Linked DNA regions of Homo sapiens: all the other regions are linked to region 3. Evidence: fine-mapped expression QTL. A gene starts in region 3. Each other region holds a variant in brackets. All regions are shown on one strand. Distances are from middle to middle. Region 1 has its middle 44 kb from the start of ZNF770. Region 2 has its middle 26 kb from the start of NANOGP8. Region 3 holds the start of ZNF770 (zinc finger protein 770).

Region 1 (4,242 bases), 44 kb after region 3:
ATGGGGTTTCACCATGTTGGCCAGGCTGGTCTTGAACTCCTGATCTCGTAATCCGCCCGCCTCAGCCTCCCAAAGTGCTGGGATCACAGGCGTGAGCCACTGCGTCCGGCCAGGATGCAGATTTTTTTTCTTTTCTTTCTTTTTTTTTTTTTGAGACGGAGTCTTGCTCTGTTGCCAGGCTGGAGTGCAGTGGCGCGATCTCAGCTCACTGCAAGCTCCACCTCCAGGATTCAAGCGATTCTCCTGCCTCAGCCTCCGGAGTAGCTGGGACTACAGGTGCGCGGCACCACGCCAAGCTAATTTTTGTATTTTTAATAGAGACGGGGTTTCACCATGTTGGCCAGGATGGTCTCGATCTCTTGACCTCGTGATCCACCCGCCTCGACCTCCCAAAGTGCTGGGATTACAGGCGTGAGCCACTGCGCCCGGCCTATCTCATCTTTAAAATGAGGATAATCACATCTGTCTTGCCTACAGGCCAAGTCTGTGACAGTACATTACAAAATATTAAATGTATGTAAATTCAAGGATCATTAATATTTAGAGATAACTGTGATATTTTCATTATTTTGCTATAAAAATATTGTCTGACACTAATTGTATCAGTAATCTACTGTGGCATAAGAAACTACCCTCTAAACTTATTGACTTAAAGCAACCATTTATTATTTCTCTCTTATAAGCCTACAAGTCAGCCAGATGAGTTCACTGGTCTGCATCAGGCTCAGATATACTTAGTTGGTCTTGCTTATGTTTCTGTGATCAGCTCGGGGGGTGGGCTGGTGCTGGCTGGTCTAGGATGGCCCCAGCTGGGATGATTTGGCCCTCTTTCATGTGGTCTCTCATTCTTTAGCAGGTAGCCCAGAGCTGTTCTCATGGCAAAGGAAGAGAAGGAAGTGAGAGAGTGCGTATAACACCTCTTGAGGCCTTGGCTATGAATGGGATCCCATCATGTCCCCCACATTGTAGTGACCAAAGCAATCTACAAGACAGCCTGATTCAAGGGGTGGACATGAGGACTAATGAATTTCACATCTTGATGGGAAGAGCTGCATATACACATTGTAAGGAGTAGGAAAAAGAGGAGCCATTTTGCCATGATCTACTACACTAATTGAGTCACATATTCAATTTAAGCCCTTGATTTTTAAAAATCTATTTTACTATGCAGTGATTTTTTTGAAATTTGCAATTTTTAGGTCACTGAGTTATCTATGTTTTAACATATATGCACATATTCACATCCATAGCTCACTGATTACACATAAACCTAAAATAAAACATTTGAATATATTTGCAATTATTGTGACCAGCTCTTACCTGGAAAAGCTGTTAGATGTATTCTTATTTATGTATTAACTCGCATTTGCTATATTAGCATTTACATAGGGAAATAAAACAAGCAGGAGGTCCAGTCAAAATAAGTGTTGGAATTCTGAGGGCTAACGCATTTTCCACTAGTGGATTTTCTGTTGCACTGAAATGATTAGTGCATTTCACTTCACTACTGATCCTATAAGCAGTCAGATTAAATACAGAGACAATATAAATAGAAAATCCAGGTCTTCAGCCCTGCCCTTGAAAATGAAAAGAACGAGTTCAGGAGATCAAGACCATCCTGGCTAATGTGGTGAAACCCCGTCTCTACTAAAAATACAAAAAATTAGCCGGGCA[C/T]GGTGGCAGGCGCCTGTAATCCCAGCTACTTGGGAGGCTGAGGCAGGAGAATGGCATGAACCCGGGAGGCAGAGCTTTCAGTGAGCCGAGATAGAGCCACTGCACTCCGGCCTGGGCGAAAAAGTGAGACTCTGTCTCAAAAAAAAAAAAAAAAAAAAAAAAAAAAAAGGAAATGAAGAGAAGAATTTTGGCTTTGTTTTATTTTGTTTGAGCTAGAATTAAACCCAACTGGATGACTACATTGATTAAATTCCATGACTGTGTGTTTAACTCATGATTTCACTTGGATTTAGGCATTTAGTTGTATAATGCCAAACATCTGGATGTTTTTTCTCTAGTGCCAAGTATATAACTGTGTGGAAGAATGTTCCAGTTTTGGCATTTACTTGGCATCCTTATATACACTCTTCAACCGGACGTACCATGTCACCTGAGGAACTCCAGAAATTTGGGTCAAAAAGATGTGTATTTCTGATTAGGTTTAATTCTTAAAACTGTAAATATAAGCTATCTGAATACATAAGCATTTGGCAATATTCTGTAGATTCTAACAGCCCCTCTCTCTATGTTGGCGTCATGTCCAGGAACATTTTAGATATACTACCATAACATTTTCTAAATGACTGTATTATAATTTAATGTTATATTTGGCAAACACAACCTAAAATACAGTAGCTAATAGTGCAAGCTCATTTTACTTGCATATCATTGTAAATCACTTTCATGTAGTACTTACCAAATGTGTCAGGTTATTACAATCTATTTAATGACTTAATGTGTAAGATGCATTGTTCTTAAATTCAATTATACCCTTTGCACCTCTGGAATTAAGGTCATGTCAGCATTTCTTTTATATAAGTGCTTGGGTTTAGCAGTTTTTAACTGAGTTATAAAAGTTGGCTTCCAAATCAAGCCTTAGTAATAAAGGTCACTGCCTGAAGGAATTCCCCTCCTCTCCAAATTTAGTACATATAATGTTTTGGTGCAACTCCTGCTTTCTAAAATAATTTTTCAGGAAAAAATTCATTATAGTCTTCATATGGCAGAAAGGAAGCTCTTTCATTTTCTGTTTGCTTTATAAGACTAAGCTTTTCTTCCTTGCAAAGTGACAGTCATCTCTCTATCTGGCTTTTAATATATTCTCCATCTCCATTTTTTTATTGGTTACGTAACCTCAAGCTGTCATTTAGCCACTTTGTGTCTCAATCTACTCATCTGTAGAATGAATTATTGACAGTACCTACCTCACAGAGTTGTAGTGAGGATTAGATGAGATACTATACACATGTGTTTGGGAAAGTACATATTAATTGCTCAACAAAAGTTAGGTTTTATTATTATTAGATAAGAGATTTAGGCCAGGCATGGTGGCTGACCTCTGTAATCCCAGCACTTTGGGAGGCGGAGGCGGGCAGATCACTTGAGGTCAGGAGTTGGAGACCAACCTGACCAACATGGAGAAGTCCTGTCTCTACTAAAAATACAAAATTAGCCAGGCATGGTGGTGCATGCCTGTAATCCCAGTTACTTGGGAGGCTGAGGCAGGAGAATCGTTTGAACCCAGGAGGCAGAGGTTGCAGCAAGCCAAGATCTTGCCATTGCACTCCAGCCTGGGCAACAAGAGCGAAATTCCATCGCAAAAAAAAAAAAAAAAAAAAAAGATTTAGTGTGAGTCTATTCCTTATTAGAGGAACATTTGAAAAAAACAGGCTACTGAGGTAAGATTTGGCATTTACTGAGAGGTATGGAAGAAGTTATGGCTATCAGACAATCATTACCCTAATGTCAATAAATAGATATTTTTAATTTTAGAAATTAATATTAATATTTTTATTATTCATCTTCAGGTTTGCTTAGGAAGAAAACAAGATTTCCCTGAAGCAGTTGAATTAGACAGGCAATTAGCCCTGTGGTGTTGAAACATTACTGTATGTGTTGCTAATGAAACACTCTAGGCAATTCCACTCGGCCGCATGTTAATCACAAGAAGATGGACACATTTTCCTGGGTGCAGAAAAAAGCCACTCCCTTACTGACTCATTCTTTAAAATATATATATGTATAATTCACGGACAGATACAGTTTTGGGCTGGGCGCGGTGGCTCACGCCTGTAATCCCAGCACTTTGGGAGGCCAAGGTGGGTGGATCACAAGGTCAGGAGATGGAGACCATCCTGGCTAACATGGTGAAACCCCGTCTCTACTAAAAACACAAAAAATTAGCCAGGTGTGGTGGTGGGCACATGTAGTCTCAGCTACTTGGGAGGCTGAGGCAGGAGAATGGTGTGAACCCGAGAGGCAGAGCTTGCAGTGAGCTGAGATCGTGCCACTGCACACTCCAGCCTGGGCAACAGAGCAAGACTCTGTCTCAAAAAAAAAAAAAAAAAAAAAAAGAAAAAGATTCAGTTTTGCATTGACCAAATACCTAATTTGTTCCTGAATAACCTGCAAAGAAATTCTCCTGCAAAAATTGGAAAGAGGCAGATCCACTGACAAAAAATAATTTGTTTTCCTCTGTCTGTACTAACAGTAGAATCTCTGCTTTCTTAGTTGTCATGACCTCCTGTT
Region 2 (4,242 bases), 71 kb after region 3:
AGGGCAGGGCATGTCTGTATAAAACGCCTTCCTGACTAGGTGTGGTGGCTCACGTCTGTAATCCCAGCACTTTGGGAGGCCGAGGTGGGCAGATCACCTGAGGTAAGGAGTTCAAGACCAGCCTGGCCAGCATGGTGAAACCCCATCTTTACTAAAAATACAAAAATTAGCTGGGCATGGTGGTAGGTGCCTGTAATCCCAGCTACTCGGGAGGCTGAGGCAGGAGAATTGCTTGAACTTGGGAGGCAGAGGTTGCAGTGAGCCGAGATCGTGCCATTGCACTCCAGCCTGGGCAACAAGAGAGAAACTCCGTCTCAAAAAAAAAAAAAAAAAAAAAGAAAAAAAGCCTTCCTAAAGCAGGGTTCCAAATGAGGATCCTGAAGTTCTTGTGGGCTATAATCCCTTTCAGTTCCCAAATGAAAAGTGAATCTGATGATTTATTCATTTCTGTAGGGGCTAAAATGCCATTTGAAGTTATCATTGAGGCATTAAATTTTCCTCATCTGCAAAGCGTAAGGTTCCAAATACCTAGAGAGGTGAGGCTGTGAGAGATGGGAGGATGAGAGAGGTCGTTCAAAGGCTGCGAAGGAGAATGAGATAGAAGAAGTGGGCCTGCCACTCTTGGAACGTGAGCTTTGTTTGGAGGAACTCCTGTAGAGACTGGAGGGGGAAGTGGCAAGGTAAAGAGCTGCCTCCACTTTTATGTTTCATAATACGTTTTTTAGATGTTTCTTCCCAGCCAGAAATTGTCAATATGATTAAGAGTCAGCTGTCTGACCTCAAAAGAAGGTGGCCAGCTGCCCTTTAAATATGTCTCTGCAGTTGAGGGCATCCAATAAAAGCCAACTTGGTATGAAAAACCAATTTTTTTCTTTGCTGTTTATGTTTTTTTTTCTTAAAAAGCTTTGAACAACATAGCAAAAAATAAGAAAGGAGGGCTGTGCTCCAGATGTGCAAGCTTTCCTAGAAGAAAAAAAGATCTGAAAAGCTTCTTCACCACCTGTCCTGGTGAGGCAAGCAGAGGACTTGACTCCACATGAGAAAGCTAATCAAAGAAAAAACTCTACTTGTCAGAATTTTCTCTCTAGTTTTCATCGTACAGAGGCACATCCTGACAAACTATAGAGTCCCTCCACTGACCAAAAGCGAAAAACAAAAAGACAAAGTAGCTTAAAATAGGGCTGAGTAGGACTGAAAGTTTAAGGAACTATTAAAAACAAAGGAAACACGCTAATTCTACCCAACAAAGAAATAGGAAACACGTCAGAAGACAGAAGGGAAAGAAAGAAAACCTGCTACCCATGTTTAATCTTTGTCTACTCCCAGAAGACTCACAAAATTTAAAACAAGTACAAATGAAAATACAGAACACACTTTAACAAAAACAGATCAGTAGGTGGTTACCATGTGCCTACTTAGAGCAGCCCCTATTTCTCAGGGCCACGAGAGTGATAGCACAGATGAATTAAGCCCACACGCCCAAAGCAAAAATTTCATTTTGGTCTTTAGTCTTATTCTCTTCTCAACTAGAGACTAACAAAAGTAAGTCAAACCACTTCGAGTTTCAGCAGTTTTCCTTCTTATTTCTGTACTAAAGAGTTATGAAAATGGCTCTTGGCAAATATGAGGAAAAGGAAAAGCAACAAGCCTTATTTGACTGCACTGAGGCTGTCTGTGCAGACTTTTCAGAGGTGGGGTTGTCAGTGCAAGAGACGAACAGCACATAGGGCTCTTAGCCTTGCCACTTTGTTTGAAAGGCTATAGAAACTGACTGGTAGGTGCCAGGCATTGTGATAGTTATTTTATATATATATATATATTTGCATTTAATCCTTCAGTAGCCCAGTGAAGTGGAAATTTGTATTTCTGTTTGTTTTTGTTTGTTTGTTTTTTGAGACGGAGTCTCACTCTGTCCCCCAGGCTGGAGTGCGGTGGCATGATCTTGGCTCACTGCAAGCTCCGCCTCCCAGGTTCACGCCATTCTCCTGCCTTAGCCTCCCGAGTAGCTGGGACTACAGGCGCCCGCCACCACGCCTGGCTAATTTTTTGTATTTTTAGTAGAGATGGTATTTTTTGTATTTTAGTAGTTTCACCTTGTTAGCCAGGATGGTCTCAATCTCCTGACCTCATGATCCGCCCGCCTTGGCCTCCCAAAGTGCTGGGATTACAGGCGTGAGCCACCGCGCCCGGCTTGTATTTCTGTTTTACACAAGAACTCAGAGTTCAAGTATCATGGTCAAAGTCATGTATTCTAAATGGG[G/T]GTGGGCCAATATTTGAACAAAGATCAGAGAAGAAGCAATGTATTTGCTGTGCTGTGAGCAGGCATATTTGCTCTGAAATTTGAACTGAGAGGCAGTTCTGAAATGTTCTGCAGACTGGGGCCCAGAATTGGTGCCCTGACAAACCAGAGCCACAGGCATGATGGTATAGTAGCCAAGGAATCAGCTCTCTATGGCAGGAATGAAGCACAGGCAGAGAGAAGGAGAGACCAGGAGCCACTGAGGGACAGGTGTGTGTGCAACATTTAAAGCTACAGATAGGCCAGGTGCAGTGGCTCACGCCTATAATCCCAGCACTCTGGGAGGCCAAGGCAGGCAGATTGCTTGAGCTCAGGAGTCAGAGACCAGCCTAGGCAACATGGCCAAACCCTGTCTCTACAAAAAATACAAAAATTAGCTGGGTGTGGTGGTGTATCCTTGTACATCCAGTTACTTGGGAGGCTGAAGCGGGAGGATTGCTTGAGCCAGGGAGGTGGATGCTGCAGTGAGCCAAGATCACACCACTGCACTCCTGCCTGGGGCACAGAGGGACACCCTGTCTCAAAAAAATTAAAAAATTAAAAAAAAAAAAAAGCTACAGATGATGCCTGGACCCTCTCCCAGGCCCACCGGATGGAAATCACCAGGAACTCAGACCACAGCTGAGAACACTGATCTGGCTTGAGTAGATTCTGTTCCTTGAAATCTTAAAATGACTTTGACCTTCCCCAGACACCTTGTCCTTTCTACTACACCTCATTGCCCTTATCTAAGCATAGAAATGCAGTGATTAATTCAGGAAAAAGGTAACAAAAAGAAGGAGAATACAAAAAGAAGGAATCTGATGGCTAGAAGCGTCCTCTCAGCTCAGCTAATGACCACTTTTGTGGTTATTTTTGTTTAACATTGTCAGAGTTTGCTGAAAGAATGTGGAATCTCATTTCTTGAATATTTGCAAAGAGGACATGTAGCCACCTACCAGAATGATTCCAGTGCCAATGCTTCTGCCTGAAAATCAATGAGTGTGTCTTTCTGTTTTTTTTTTTTTTTTCTCCAGACGGAGTCTTGTTCTGTCACCCAGGTTGGAGTGCAGTGGCATGATCTCGACTCACTGCAACCTCTGCCCCCGGGTTCAAGCGATTCTCCTGCCTCAGCCTCCCGAGTAGCTGAGACTACAGGCACATGTCACCACGCCTGGCTAATTTTTGTATTCTTAGTAGAGACGGGGTTTCACCATGTTGGCCAGGCTGGCCTCGAACTCTTGACCTCATGATCTGCCCACCTTGGCCTCCCAAAGCGCTGCGATTACAGGCATGAGCCACCGCACCCGGCCGAGTGTGTCTTTCAAGTCCCAGTCCAAGGATGTTACTGAAACCGCCTTTGCAAAAATTATAAATGAGAAAATTATGACTGATCTAACTGACTCCATCTTGCTTCTAACCTCCAAGCTGTCTTTGTTCATTCCTGGGCGTGGGCCCAACTAACTTTGGAAGAAATTTAGTTTACAGTTTAGCTTTCAAACAAAGACAATAACAGACCTTTCGCAAAACAAACCCCCTTCCTGCCTGGGGACGAGACTGCTTTTTTAGAACTAGCAAATTAGCTACAGGATTAGAAATTATGGTTTAGGAGTCACGCAGCTGGAGATTCTGAACCTCCTCAAATTGTTCCTGGGGATAACATCACTATTGTAAAACCTAAGATCAGTGCTTAACATACTTTGCAGACCCTACACTTGACGGATCAGCTGGCACCACCCAGACGGATAAACTGGCTCATCCTGTCTTGTGGCCCCCACCCAGGAACTGACTCAGCGCAGGAGGACAGTTTCAACTCGCTGTGATTTCATCTCTGACCTGACCAATCAGCAGCTCCCCACTCTCCAACCCCCTACCCACCAAATTATCCTTAAAAACCCTGATTCCCGAGTTTTCAGGGAGACTGATTTGAGTACTAATAAAATTCCAGTCTCCCATACAGCCGG
Region 3 (4,242 bases):
AGTCAAACCAAAAGTAATCAAGCCTTTATTCACTTACTGTGACAGTGCAAGCAAGTGGTAAAAAGAGGCACTGGCTCCCCAGTGGTCTACTAAATACAAGGACACTGGGTGAGGGTCAGTTGATGCAGTGCATATGAGGTAATCCTCTCACTGAAAGGAGCCCCTAACAAAAATCTCCTGCCTCTTATGGAACTTCAGAATAGGAAAGGGAGGGGAAGGTCTAGGAGTGAAAGAAGCTGGGTCAAAAATGGAGAAAAGTGTCTTAGCCACGGTCCTTCCTAGGAGGGCCTCCAAATGGAGGTACCCAGGCTAGGAAAGAAGTTATGGGATTTGCATATCTAGCAGGAGGGGCAGGGCAAGTCCTTGACTGCAACCCCCTCCAGAAAACTGCAATGCACCGGCCCATATCGAGTATGGTGTGGGAGGACAGCTTGGCCCTTGAGGCCAGTCAGGCAAAGCCTGGTAATTGTCCAATGTCAGGACTGAATGATCACACAGGATTTTGGTATAAAGCCAGATTCAATTCCTTTTGTATGTTTCTTCTTCCCTTTAATAAATGCTTTCGTGGAACACGCCTAAAAGAAAAAAATCACACACCACAACTACCTCTGATTAAAACAGGGATTGGCTACCTACAGCTCCTGTACCAAAAAGGAGCTACGGTTAATCATCCATTGTTAGCACTAAGATTGGATAACTGTTGTCACTTGCCTCCCACCACGTGGAAAAGCACTTACTGGGAGCCCTAGATTGTTAGAACCATTAGTGGCAAGTGGTGATCCTATCTCCTGTTTATGAGAGTCAGGTTAGGGATCCTCACCTCACGCACTCATGGAGCTCCAAATCCCATTTCAACCGATTTTTGTTGATAACATAAAAATAAAAAAGACTGTAATTTTTCTTATCTTAAACTGAAATAAAAGAATAGTAGATCTGCTCAGTGGTTCAATCCAGAATTTATCCTGACAAGAACAAGATACTCTACGTGAAGACTGTAAAAACTGTAAAAACTGACCTCAATAATATCCAATGTTGCCTCAAGGCTGAAAGCCTGTTGATTTTCTTGTCTTGACTAGTACCATTAAAACGATGTGAGGATTTCACGAAAGTAAGCGAACAAGAAATGAAAGACCTAAGAGAAACACACACAACTTTCAGTTGGGGAATAATCTCCGGCGGCTGCTTCTGCCCCACTCGCCCCGGGCCCATTCTCTTGGCCTTGAACCCTCACCTCTCCCTCCCAGTGGACTACACTGGACAAAGGACACTGACACACAGTCCTCGTTCTAAAGGCCCACAACCAATAATAAGCACGTAATGGTCGAGCCGAGTCCAGAAACCACAAAATCCCACGCCAGGAAAGGAAGGGTAAGGGTAAAAACTGCTTTGGCTGCAGCCAGGATGAAAACGCCACATGTGATACAACCCACAGCAACAACAAAAAAAAATCCCTCTACGCCTTCCTCTCAAATTTCTGCTCCGCGTGAGACGCACTCAATAGGTGGGGAAGTGAGAAAGCAAAAGGAGCTCAGGAACTGAGGTTGTGGAGCCCCCGTTCTTGGGTCCCCAGGCACCTTGGCGGTATTGAGGCAGGTCCGACCCTCCCTGGGGGTCGCTCCACTTCTCAGTCGGGTTTCTGAAGTCCTCCTCACGCATCTGGAGCTGGCGAGGGCCCGGGAGGCACGCACCTCAGGCCCAGGTGCCGCGAAGGCAGCGCGCGCACGTCCGCAGGGCCGGCGCGGCAACGGGCTGAGCGCGCAGGCGCGGCGCTCTGGCGCGCCCAGGGACACAGTCCGGCTGGAAACAAGCTCCCCCCAATTTCAGGGCCGTTGTCGCCTCCGGGCGGTCCGCGGGTCCCGAGCGGACTGGGACTCTGGAGACGTGCCCCCAACCCCACCGCCATTCACCCTGTCATTGCAGGGGAGAGAACAGAATAAAGACGGGTACATTTTCCATCTCACCTCTGAACCTCGGTTAGGAAAACGCTGTAGCCCTGACTAGTGGGCTCAAGGGCCGACTGGAAAAGGGCGAGTCAGCGTTCAAAGCCGATTCGGGGCAGCCCTCTCTAACGCAGAGGGCCGAGGATAAGAAGACGACAATGTGTTAGGGGCCCTCCGGGCTAGGACTGTCCTCACCACTTTGTACATTGCCAAAGTAAATATAACGTAGAGGTCAAGCGCAGGCGCTTTGTGGGCAGACATGACTGAGCTCCACTCGCGACTCCTCTAATGGCGTGCCAGCTGCGGACCTCATTAGCCCCGCCTCAATCATTCAGTATGTTTTGGTTGTCTACAGTGTACGAAGCCCTGTTCTCACAATTAGATAAAATGAGTGTGAAGTGCTCAACATAATTCCTAGTGTAGTAGGCCTTCAAAGAACTATTATCATTATTAATTACTCATATAGAATACAACTTTATGAAATGATAGGATCCCATTTTAAGATGAGGAAAATGAGGCTATCAGAGACGTTAAGGAACTTAATGTCACACAGTTAATAAACGATAGAGGTGCGATTTGAACACAGGTTGTCTAATACCAGACCTGCATTTATAACTGCTGCTTCCCAAGTTATAGATATTTCAGCATTTTATGTAGTCACAATTGAAGACCAAATATTTAGTTACAGACTAAGTTGGCATGTTATTACTGAATAAGATGCTAAGGTATCTACTAAAGATTTTAAGTGCAAAAGGCATTAGAGAAGAATTTACTGTGGATTTTTTGCAGGTTCTGATTGTAATTGTATCACCTTGAGAAAGGAGGAAATGAAAGCAGATTATCAGGCATACTTTTTTAACTCTAAGCAACTTTTTGCATTACTTTCTAAGGACCATCAGCAACAAAAATCAATGGTTTCTAATGTTGATATATTTTCCTCTACCAAAAAAATTAAAGCAGCTGAGCCAACAAAAATTCTCTGTTTTGGATGTGTTAGCATGAGGAAATGGCGAATAGGAAATGAGCTTTTGCTTCTCATGTAGGAACCCTGAAGGAGTCAGATTTGGGAGGGGTTGAAGTCTGCTTCCAACAGAAGCAGGGGTGGAGAAGGGAAAGGAAAGACTTCTGGTGTCCTAAATGCTAGTCCCAAAGTGGGGATGCTGTTTGTCCGGATAACCCTTGTAAATCTGCTCCATTCTGCAGCTACTCCTGGGAAACTTAACTCAGCCAAATAATGCAAACAATTGCATCCATCATCAGCCACATCAGCCTTAGGAGATACATCCATATCATGAGAAAACACTACCTGAAATTGGGGACCACTGGAGGGTGAGATTCGTTCTTTATCCATTACCTGCAAAACAAATTGGCCTTTGCATGGAGAGTCTGAATATATATTGAGTGTGAAAGCAGTTAGGACTTGAATAGGCTATTCTCCAAGGCCACATGCCCCATGTCATAACCTCCCCCATTTACCGTGAGAGCTATCTCAGGAGCCTTCTGGAAAAAAAAGAGAAATTAACATGAATAAGAGTAATCAAGGAAGATTTCATTGAATATGTGAAATTTGAACTAGCAGTAGTGGGTAGACTATGAATAAATAAAAAATGTGGGGGCAGGACAGAACATGGTAGGGCAGAGGTGGCAGGGTGAAGAAAAGATAGTATGAGAATGAAAAATAAAGGGGGTGCATGACATACGTTTGAATTAGTATCTTAATGCTGCAGCTTACTAGTTGTGTCCTTAGAAGTTATTTAACCTAGGCTGGGCGCGGTGGCTCACACCTGTAATCCCAGCACTTAGGGAGGCCGAGGCGGGTAGATCATGGGTCAGGAGTTCGAGACCAGCCTGGCCAACATTGTGAAACCCTGTCTCTACTAAAAATACAAAAATTAGCCGGGCGTGGTGGCACGTGCCTGTAGTCCCAGCTACTCAGGAGGCTGAGGTGGGAGGATTGCTCTAGCCCAGGAGTTAAAGGCTGTAGTGAGCCGTGTTCATGCCACTGCACTCCAGCCTGGATGACAGAGCAAGACTCTGTCTTAAATAAATAATAATAAAAATAGAAAAGATGTGCCACTGCACTCTAGCCTGGGCGACAGAGCGAGACTCTGTTTCAAAAAAAGAAAAAGAAGAAAAGACATATCAGGTACCAAGCTCTAAATATTCACTTCCAATTATATAAAGATGAAGCAGTTAGGCCCTGAACCTTAAATTAGTTTCTAGCCCAGAGGGGAAAATAACATACAAACAAGTATTAATACAATATGATAAGAGCAGATATATATAGGAGGAAAGAACATCT

What was found. PIP is the estimated chance that this variant, and not a neighbour inherited with it, causes the effect.
Region 1: its variant is fine-mapped to the expression of ZNF770 in whole blood (TOPMed, PIP 0.96).
Region 2: its variant is fine-mapped to the expression of ZNF770 in nasal epithelium (TOPMed, PIP above 0.99).

The regions. Positions count from the first base shown.
Region 1 is chr15:35,030,162-35,034,403 of GRCh38, forward strand. No RefSeq gene overlaps it. Among named protein-coding and RNA genes, the nearest start is that of ZNF770, 44 kb to the left of the region's middle. The variant C/T (reference allele first, on the strand shown) is at 1,675.
Region 2 is chr15:35,057,600-35,061,841 of GRCh38, forward strand. No RefSeq gene overlaps it. Among named protein-coding and RNA genes, the nearest start is that of NANOGP8, 26 kb to the right of the region's middle. The variant G/T (reference allele first, on the strand shown) is at 2,261.
Region 3 is chr15:34,986,542-34,990,783 of GRCh38, forward strand. It overlaps ZNF770 (zinc finger protein 770), which reads right to left and starts at 1,746. Exons shown (of 3, transcript NM_014106.4): 1 at 1,575-1,746; 2 at 1,016-1,132. It overlaps LOC105370764 (a long non-coding RNA gene), which reads left to right and starts at 1,817. Exons shown (of 5, transcript NR_188212.1): 1 at 1,817-1,943; 2 at 3,144-3,269. RefSeq lists enhancers at 245-304, 385-434, 1,841-1,930.